2 separate regions of the Homo sapiens genome follow, and region 1 is linked to region 2. The links come from fine-mapping of genetic effects on gene expression. Tissue or cell type: whole blood. Region 2 holds a variant in brackets; the other region holds the start of a gene. Each region is shown on its reference strand, or each on the opposite one.

The links. PIP is the estimated chance that this variant, and not a neighbour inherited with it, causes the effect. A credible set is the group of variants that fine-mapping cannot tell apart.
Region 1: it holds the start of PAX8, and the variant in region 2 is the best candidate, but not a certain one, in a credible set for the expression of PAX8 in whole blood (TOPMed, PIP 0.85).

What each region holds. Positions count from the first base shown.
Region 1 is chr2:113,276,235-113,281,607 of GRCh38, reverse strand. PAX8 (paired box 8) reads left to right here and starts at 2,687. Exons shown (of 12, transcript NM_003466.4): 1 at 2,687-2,777; 2 at 3,139-3,238. The coding sequence starts at 3,214. RefSeq lists a promoter at 2,085-3,214.
Region 2 is chr19:9,488,053-9,493,425 of GRCh38, reverse strand. The region is part of intron 2 of ZNF560 (zinc finger protein 560); the gene reads left to right. Among named protein-coding and RNA genes, the nearest start is that of ZNF560, 7.9 kb to the left of the region's middle. The variant T/G (reference allele first, on the strand shown) is at 2,947.

The DNA.
Region 1 (5,373 bases), not on the chromosome of region 2:
ATGATGCATACCTGTAGCCCCAGCTAGTCGGGAGGCTGAGGCAGGAGAATCACTTGAACCCAGGAGGTGGAGGTTGTAGTGAGCCGAGATCATGCCACCGCACTCCAGCCTGGGTGACAGAGTGAGACTAAGTCTAGAAGAAAAAAAAAAGAGTTCTAAAAGTCCCATTGAAAGTCTATTAGTCACAGTGCAAATTTATTTTAAAATTTCAAATATCATCATAGGAAGGCATATGATTTTTATTCTTAACTAAAAGCATCATGGATTTTAAGTTTGAAAAAATACTGTGATAATAGGTGATTTTAAAAATATATGTATTTCAAACCTTTCGTTTTGCAGAGGAGGAGACTGATGCCAAAGAGACAGAGTTAAAGCACCAGTTAATGACATTTCCTTGGCCTTGGTCTCAGAGAATTAGGAAGTACCAAGGAACCCAGGCCTGATTTCTGATTCTAATTAGAAGCAGGGTCAGTCCAGGAGGCCTGTGTTTATCTCTGCAGCAGAAGTTCACTGCATTCTCACTTCTTGCTCGTCCTAGATCTTCTCTGCTGAGTCTTCTGGTCACCTGCTATGTCACCTGCAGTCTGGAGAAGAGGTACTGTCAAGGTGTGGGGTGTGTTTTTCCCTGAGGAGTAACCTTGAACAGTGCACATTGTTTTTACCTTGAAATGAAATTTTAAAGATAAATTTATACATGGGACAGGAATGTTCTGATAACTTGCTGGATTTGTCCTCTAAGAAATTTTGCCCAAAAAGGGGATAGGAAAGGGAGAGGGTTCATTGCTTGGGCAGAAAAGATGTGCACAGGCAAGAATGATTGCATGAGAGTCAATGGTTATTGGTACGTATCAGAACCTTAGATTGGGTAGAATCTCTAAGGTTGTCAGAGCTGTTTGAAATGAGGGCGTATTAGATTCACCCTGGAGCATTGCCTCCCTGGTGGGAGGGAATCCTGGGTGGACAAAGAGAGTTTCTGCTGTGGCTGCCACACTCCACACCTCCCCTGCAGCAGGACACAATCCAGGGCAGCAAACTGGCCCATGGGGTCCGGAGGACCTATGCCAAGATCCATTTCCATCCCAACACCCTTGGATTGTCTCTCTCTGGGAGGGACTGCCAGAGAAGTTAGGGATCTGGAGCTTTGAAAACCACAGAGATATTTAAAATTACAATTTTAGAGAAAGATTTAAAATGATGAAGCACCAACTATTTTTGTTTACAGCCCCTCTTTGCAAATGTGGAGGAAACATGTAGGGATACACATCTTCTTCTCTCTTTTTTCACAAGATGATTCATTTCTCCTAAATTGAGAAATGAGAAAGACTGGGTGGAAGGAGGTTGTGGATTGACATGAAAGAGAAAACTTTTTTAATTCAGAAAAATAGTTCATGTGTTTTCACACACGTGTACATATGTGCATACACACACACACACACACACACACACACACATCCAATCCCCCTGAATATCCCAGTTTCCCCTGCACCTTCCTTGCCCCCCTCCCACTGGCTTCTTAGCCTCCTGTCCCAGAACAACCCCACCAGGCCTGCAGAGCCATCACTGAAAAGGGCATGGCTGTCCTCTAGACTGTAATCCTGAGTCCAGAGGTCTGGCCAAAGATTGGAGGAGCATCCAGGCCTTGACCCCCAGGCCTGCCAGTGTTCCAGGACATTTGCTCACTCATACCCACTCACAATCTTACGTGTACCCCGGTTCCCCGACTGAGAGAACTATGAGGAAGGAGGGGGCAGCTTTTGCCATCACTAAGGTAAAGAGGTGCCAGGCAGCTCTGCTCGGTCCCAGGGCTCACCAACCCTGCCATCATTCCCACCAGTGGACCCCTTCTTAACCACACCCAGGCCCCCATATTGCTGAGGCTATTGATTCCTACAGACCAGGCCAGAGGTCAGCTCAGTCCTGTTCCTTTCTAAGGCCTTTCCACACAGAGATGAAGTCTAGGCCCTCAATGCCCTTCCCCTGAACTCTTCTTCCAAGTTCAAAATCCTCAAGGAGCAAGAAAGAGGGCAGGTGGCTGCGTGTGTGTTCCAGAGGAGAGAGGCGAGGAGTTGCTGTGGAATGGGTTATGTGACAATTTTGTTAGCCTGACAATGCAAGGGTGTGAACGCTATCTGTGTAGAACAGAGGGAATGGCTTCAGGTGCTGCTCAGGATTCTTCCCTGGAAGAGGTCATAGCTGTGGTGAGAAGGTAATAGCATCTTGCCTACAGCCCCGAAAGCAGGCTCTACCTAAAGAATCAGGCATAAAACAGAAGTTCCCTCCTTCCTTTTACAAAAGAAAAGGCTGCTTCCTGGTGAGCAAACCAGGGGAGACAGGGGGCAAGGAGGGCATCCTACAGAGACCATCCCTCTCACTTCTGGTGGTCAGTGACCCAGGAGGACCCAGAGAACCTCATCCTCAGGCTCCTAGGCCTCTGTTCCCCACTCCTCCAATATTTCCAGGCCTGCTGAGTTAGGGCTCAGCTGCCTCCCTCTTCCCTCCGCTGGAAACAGAAGCTCCCAGCGAATGTTTCTAACTCCTGAGTCCACTCAGCCATGTCCCCCTTGCAAAATCCTCCCCTTCCCGCACCCCCCTGCACCCAGCCAGCCAATCCGCGGCCTACGAGCCTCGCCAGACCCATCTCCCAGGGCCTCAGCGGGATAAAACCGGTCGGTGATGCCGGGTGGATGGGAACAAACTTCAGAAGGAGGAGAGACACCGGGCCCAGGGCACCCTCGCGGGCGGACCCAAGCAGTGAGGGCCTGCAGCCGGCCGGCCAGGTATGTCACCCAGGGGTTAGCTGGAAGCTGGCTAGCAGTGAGGACGGGGGATGGAAGAAAGGAGAGGGTCCCAGGATGCCTGGCAGCCTTTTCCCTCCCAAGTTAAACGGGATAAGACTGGGACAGCGGAGGGAGTGGGCACGGAGGTTGGAGTCTGGAGCTTCTTCAGCGCACTCCCAATCCTTGATCCTCCCGGGAAGCCTGTTAGCTAGGCTAGGCTGAGGTTGGCCCTACTTCGCCTAAAAATCCTCCTACTCCTGGCAGACGATGCAGGTGTAAAGGATGAGGCCTGGGGAGGGGGCCTGAGGATGCAGGCATCGAATCTCATCGCATCTCATGCCCTTCTCCTGGGTTTGTGCAGGGCAGCGGCAGGCGCGGCCCGGACCTACGGGAGGAAGCCCCGAGCCCTCGGCGGGCTGCGAGCGACTCCCCGGCGATGCCTCACAACTCCATCAGATCTGGTAAGAACGCGGTGTGGTCAGGATCCCCGAGCCCCCGCGCCGCTGAGCGTCCGTGCGTGCGCTCGGGTGGTTGGATCTCGAGAGCGTCAGCACGGGATTCGCGGGACCCACCCGCGTGGGGACCCAGCTGGGGCGCCTGGGGCCTGGCCCTCCGCTGGAGCCGCCTCGCTGTTCTCGGGCACTGGGGTTCCACCCGGCCAGCTGAGCCGCCCTTGCCCGGTTTCGAGGGACCACATGGATCGGTGAGGGGATCTCTGTGGAGTTAGAGGGGGTTTCCTTTGAGCTCCATTCCCAGCCTTGCATGGCGCATTAGTGTGGACATTCTTCGTGCTCTGTCCCTGGGCTGCACCGGTGCTGGACTTGCCGTTTCCCCGTCCCCGACCTCTAAGTCCTCTTCCTCGGGTGCGCGCAGTCCTTCCCAGTGACTCCCCTGGCTGGACTGTGAGCTCCCCGCATCTCTCAAGCCAACGGCAATGGAGCCGGTGGTCCCGGGCCCGGGAGCCGGCAGCGCACTCAGGTGCTCTCCGACTCCTCCTGGCCCAGCACCGGGCAGGCCGGGCGCCGCGCGCGGGGCGTCCGGCTGGTGAGGACTAAGCCGCTCGCGGAGTCAAAACCCCCTCCCCACCTGCGCCCGGAAGCAGGGCCTTCAAACACACTCGAGCTCCCAGGCCGCGATGCCTGTTTTCCCCCTTCCCGGCCAGGGCTGGGCAGGGTCTTTGCTGGGAAGGAGCTCCAGGGTCAGGGCTGGTGGGCGCAGCCGTCCCGGCGCGCAGCGAGTGCGGACAGCGGTGGAGGCGCAGCGCGGCCCGCAGTGATGGATGGAGCCCGGCCGGCCGCAGAGAAGGCGATTTATGGGGCCAGGGCGCATCGCTATCGATTTGGGCCGGCGAAGTGAGAGGAAATCAATATTTCAGAATGAATTCTCCGCGAATATGATGTCCCGCTCTGCAAACGGGACATTTGTTATAATAAGGAGGGTCGGATCGGGCGCGCAGCGAGGCTGAGATCTCTATTTAGCCAAGCGCACTGCGGGGGCCCGGGCTCTGCGGCGCAGTCTCCAGTCCCAGGGCCATGGCCCAACTAGGAGGGGAGCGGGAACCCCCTGGGGCGCCGGAAGATTTCTCACTCGGGTTCTCTCTAGAGCTGCAGACGAATGCTCCCTCCCGGCCCCCATTCCCCTCAGAGACCTGGGCCAGAATCGTCCGGCTGCCCCCAGAAGGCGCGGGGTCCCTTCAAGGTCCTCAGGGGAGAGACCTCGCAGCCATTCCCCGGCGCGGCGGGGTTGGGGAGCCCTGGGACCGAGCAGAGCTCCCTGGCACCTCTTTACGGTCCGCGTCCTGGAACCACGAGCGCTCCTAGGCCACTATCTAAGGTCAGGATCAGGTTTTAGTCCCTTAATCTTTAGCCAAACCGTGGTACGATACCAGACATCGCCAGGACCATCCCTGAGGCCTAATGTGCAGTGCCCGGTGCCCATGCCAAGCTGGTGCAATGGCACTTCTGCGCCAAGCTGGTGCAATGGCACTTCTGCTCGGCTCTGGAGGTCCATCTTTCCTCCTAACCTTCCCCTGACCCTTCCGGCGGTGGCAGGAGGAGTGAGTGCTCTCGGAAATCAAATTCACTGTGGCCGGGCTGGACCCTTACTCTCTGCCGCTGCCCAAGAAATGAGACGATGTCCCCGTCCCTCAGATGAGCTTTTTTTTTTTTTCGCGGCTACTTATTTTCATTCTAGAAGTACTCGTTAGAATAGATGGAAATAGAGTATGGAAAGAATAAATAAAGGCACAATTTATTTTTACTGTAGTTTTAATCAGGAACAGTCCCAGATGATGAGATGCGCGCTTTCCCACTAGCTTGGATGCAAATCGCGCTTGGGTTTTGGGAGGGAGCCCTCTGCCCCTGGACCTACCAGGTAATTTTTTTCCCCTTTCTTCTTTTCGGGAAGACAGAGGGGCTTCTTCTACCCTCTTTCCAAAACAAATAGACAAAGTGGCGAGGGAGGGAAGATGAGACTTTCTTCTCATAGTTTAATTTAAACGCTAATAAAACAAGAAAATGGCCTATAACCGCATAGACTGCTGAAGGCGCTCCCTGTTTCTTTTCTGAACCCTCCCTCGGCAAACCTGAGGGAGAGG
Region 2 (5,373 bases):
ACAACTGCACTCCTGCCTGGGCAACAGAGTGAGATTCCGTCTCAAAAAAGCAAAAACAGAAAACCTGCCAGACTACTGCAGTTGTTGTTTCTGTCATTGATCTTGAAGTTATAGTTGCTATCCATGGTTTTACTTTTTCGATGAACATTTTTTGTATTTTCCTTGCCCTCAGCCAGAATCAGCAGCTCTGGGCTCTGTACCTGATGGAGTGACTCAAACCTTCCTTCTGAAGGGATCTTGGTCCTCCATTTTCCTGCCTTTTTTCTACGGTAATTTTTTGTTAACCTTTCTAAGTGGTATGGAAGTGCTAGGAGGTTCTAGACATCATTCTTTTTGCCTCAGTTGTATAGTAGTACCCCAGTTTCCCTTTGGTAGTTGAGATTAATCCCTTCAGTTAATAGATTATACCCTCTCACCTCCTTATTTTTCTTTTTCTTCTTGGTTTAATGGATATGAAACTTATAAGGGCCAGATGTTAATCTCACTTTCCAGTGTATTGGGACCAAATAAATAGTTGCCCCTGGGGAAGCATTCCCCATTATGGACTCAGATCTCCAAATTACAGTGCTCTACATTGCTGGGATTGGAAGCAAAATTTTTGTCTTAGAGCTAATTCTGCCTTCACCCATCAATTCCTGGGCCTGTTTGTTCTGACTGTGGTGAGATAGTAGTATCTAGTGATCTCTGATTCAGAGCATACACTGTGTCTTGTGAAACAGAATCCCATTCTTTCAGAGGTTGTCTCCCAGTTGGCCCTGTATCTGAATTTTCAGTAAGCTATTTCACCTTTCATTTAGACTAGCTGCTTCTGAGTGATGGGGTGTGTGATGAGACCAGCTGATGAGAGGGACATGTTCCCACTGTTGCACTTCCTTTGCAGTGAAATGGGTTCCTTGATGAAAGATGGTATTGTGTGAATGCTGTGACTGCAGTGAAAGCATTTTGTGAGTGCATGGATTATGCATTGTATAGGCAAAAGCCTAGTGGATTTGCCTCTCCTCTGTACAAATCTGCCTCTATACAAATCCTATATGGATTTGCCTCTCTACTAGTTAGGCTTCTGGCAAATCCATATCCAGAACACGAGTCTATTCCAGTGAAGATGAATCTTAGTCACCTTCATGATAGGAGTGGTCCAATGTAATCATCTTGCCACCAGCTGGCTCCCCTGGTTACTCTAGAAATTAATGCCCTTGGTTCAAGACTAACCTGGGCAACATGGTGAAACCCCATCTCTATGAAAACAAAAAATCAACCCCCCTACGAAAACCACCCAGATTAGCCAGGCTTGATGATACATGCCTGTAGTCCTAGCTACTCAGGAGCATGAGGCAGAAAGATTGCTTGAGCCCAGGAGATTGAGGCTGCAGTGAGCTGTGATCATGCCACTGCACTCCAGCCTGGGTGACAGAGTGAGACCTGTCCCCCCCCCAAAAGAAAAGAAAAAAGAAATTAATGCCCTTATATATTCAGTTTTGGTTTTTGCTTTTAGCAGATTAGGCACCTAGCAGTAGCATTAGCTGCATTAGCTTTGGTAAATGGAAGTCCATACTGTTGAGCCATAGTAGCCTTTATCCCTGTTTTTTTTTTTTTTTTTTTTGAGACGGAGTCTCGCTCTGTCGCCCAGGCTGGAGTGCAGTGGCAGGATCTCGGCTCACTGCAACCTCTGCCTCCCAGGTCCAAGCGATTCTCCTGTCTCAGCCTCCTGAGTAGCTGGGACTACAGACGCGTGCCACCACACCCAGCTAATTTTTTGTATTTTTAGTAGAGATGGGGTTTCACCATGTTAGCCAGGATAGTCTCAATCTCCTGACCTCATGATCTGCCAGCCTCAGCCTCCCAAAGTGCTGGGATTACAGGTGTGAGCCACCATGCCTGGCCAAGAATCTTATAGGTCTGCCAAGTGTTGCACCTAATTTTGGGGAGCACTAACTAGGAATGACACCTTGGAGGGGATATCTTGATATGGTCTAGACAACTGAACCCACAAATCTTTGTTGATTGGATGGGGCATGGTGGCTCAGGCCTGTAACTCTAACACTTTGGGAGGCCAAGGCAGGCAGATTGCTTGAGGCCAGGAGTTCGAGACCAGCCTGGCCAACATAGTGAGATCCCATCTATACCAAAAAAGATTAAAAGAAAAAAAATTACCTGGTGTAGTAATGTGCACCTGTCGTCCCAGATGCTTGGGAGGCTGAGGTGGGAGGATCACTTGAGCCTAGAAGGTGGAGGTTGTGGTGAGCCGTGATCACACCACTGCACTCCAGCCTGGGCAACAGAGCAAGACCCTGTCTCAAAAAAACAAAACAAAACCAACTTTGTTTATTTAGCTGGCTCTTGAATCTCCCATCCTCTACTTTGTAGCCTGTAAAGGTATCCAAACTATTTACTGTTTCCTGTTCATGGGATATCATGTACAAAATATTTTCAATGTGATGGAGTGTTGCAATGTTTTGTGTAATAGCAAAACCTCTGAAGACTATTTCGGTGGAAAACAGGAGAATTGATATAAGTTATGATAGTCCCCCGTAATTCTCCAAAGTCGATGTGACTTCTGCACAATCCTGAGTGGTGTGTTACCTAGGTCTGGTGATTGGGTGAGAGACTTTGAATCTCCCCTGTGGTGACTCTTATCAGGTTTTTGGCCATTAGACTTGAGACTTCTTGTTACATAGATCAAGCAATATTCCAAGACTTACATTGGCAAACTGTGGCTTATGGGACACACCTAATCTTCAACCTGTTTTTGTAAATTATAATTGGAACAGAACAACTATGTTCATTTGTTTATATATTTTCTGAGGCTTCTTTCATACTACAAGGACAGAGTTGAGTATTTGTAACAGAGACTGTGTGGCCCACAGAGTATAACATTTACTATATGTCACATTACAACAAGATTTATTAATCCCTGTTATAGTAGGGTTCTTATCTGTTTCATGCTAG[T/G]GACGAAATGTGATCAGTTTGCTAACACCAATAATCTCTGCAGGCCAAAGCATTCCAATTATTGGTACATTCAGTGTGCCCTTGACATTCGATGTGGCCTCATTGTCTTTGATAGTTAAGTGCTACCCACTTGGTTTTTGGCACTCAAGGTTCTCATCATCCCCATTGAAACAGGGAACTCATCTTAATGATTGTTATCTCCTGTAGTCTTAACAAATGTTTAAAGGAGAATAAACAGAACTTTTCAAGAATGGAAGTATTCCCTTCAGTTATCTATTTCTGAATGCCTTTGTGAAGAGGGTGTCTTCTGGGCCCTTAATGTAGGTTGAAGAAGGGAAGCTGTGCAGATCACATGTGATAAATTCAGTGCAACCTTCCTGTGTGTCTAGGATTCCCTCCTTTACATTAGCCAGGGAAGCTCTTACATATTAACTCTGTTAACTAGGTCATGAGTACAAGTTTCAATCATCCAACCAGTTTAGCTATTAGAATCATGCCATGGTCCATTAGCTAATATGTAAAATTCAAAATGTCTAGTAAGTACCTGTATTAGGCTATTCTCACATTGCTATAAAGAAATACAAGAGACTGGCCGGGTGCAGTGGCTCACACCTGTAATCCCAGCACTTTGGGAGGCTGAGGTGGGCGGATCATGAGGTCAGGAGATTGAGACCATCCTGGCTAACACAGTGAAACCCTGTCTCTACTGAAAATACAAAAAAATTAGCTGGGCGTGGTGGCAGCTGCCTGTAGTCCCAGCTACTCAGAAGGCTGAGGCAGGAGAATGGTGTGAACCTAGGAGGCGGAGCTTGCGGTGAGCCGAGGTCACGCCACTGCACTCCAGCCTGGGTGACATGTCTCAAAAAAAAAAAAATACATGAGACTGGGTAATTTATAAAGAAGTTCCCGGCCACCCAACTGTCTGGGAAGTGAAGAGCACCTCTGCCTGGCCACCGCCCTGTCTGACAAGTGATGAGCACCTCTGCCCGGCAGCCCCACTGTCTGGAAAGTGAGGAGCATCTCTGCTCAGCTGCCTACCGTCTGGGAAGTGAGGAGCGCCTCTGCTCAGCCACCACACCGTCTGGGAAGTGAGGAGCACCTCTGCCTGGCCACCACCCTGTCTGGGAAGTGAGGAGCGACTCTGTCTGGCCACTGCAGTGTCTAGGAAGTGAGGAGTGCCTCTAACCGGCCGCCGCACTGTCTGGGAAGCGAGGAGCGCCTCTGCCTGGCCGCCCCACTGTCTGGGAAGTGAGGAGCACCTCTGTCGAGCCACTGTGCAAACCTCCAAGTGTGAAGTGACAGCCTTGTGTGTGATCTTTCTGCCCTCTCCAAGTTTGCATTTTCAACATTAAAGTTTATTTTTTAATTAAAAGTTTTAAATTGCAGAATAAAAAAAGTTTAATTGGCTCACAGTTCTGCAGGCTGTACAGGAAGCATAGTGACTTCTGCCTCTGGGGAGGCCTCTGGAAGCTTCCAGTCATGGCAGAAGGTGAAGCAGGAGTAGGTACATCTTATATGGCAGGAGCCAGGAGCAAGGGAGAATGAGGGGGAGGTGCTGTACACTTTTAAATGACCAGATCATGAGGACAGTATCAAAGGAGATGGTGCTAAACCATTCATGAGAAATCTGCCCCCATGATCCAATCATCTCCCACCAGACCTCACCTCCAACACTGGGGACTACAGTTCCACATGAGATTTGGTGGGGACACAGATCCAAACCATATCAGTGCTCCATATCAATGAATTTGGGCCTATCTAATGTTAACATTTTAACCTTCTTGATCTAATACCCTTAGAATCCATCCCATACATGTTCCCTGGGTTTCTTGTGATATATTATCAGAGTTGGAATTTTTTTGTTGTGTGAGCTTTTTTCTCTTGCATTATGTTGTATATCTTTCTCCCTGGATTTTGGACTAGTTAGGACTCTAGTGATAAAAATAAGTGATAATGGTGTGGATCTTGAGGAGAATATATATTACCTTCCAAGGTATCTGGACCAAATGAGATTGTCACAAAAATTTCAAGCAGAAGGCTTTCTCCTCAGAAACCAAAGGGTAAGCTACGTCCCTGGTAAGGGAGGCTCAAAGTGTCTTAGGTTGTGTTAGTCTCTTTATTATTGCTATGACATAATACCTGAGTAATTTATAAAGAAAAGAGGTTTCTTTGGCTCAGGATTCTGCTGGTTGGAAAGTCTAAGAGCATGGCCCCAGCATCTGCTCTACTTCTGATGAGGCTCACGTGTTGCGGCAAAACATGGTAGAGAGGCAGAAGAGGAAGCAGGCTTGTGCAAAAGGGACCAAACACAAACAGCAGCCTTGCTTTATAACAGTTAGCTCCTGTGGGAACTAATTCAGTCCTGTGTGAGCTAAAATTCACTTCTGCCTGGTAGCATTAATCTATTTATGTGAGATCTACCCCCAT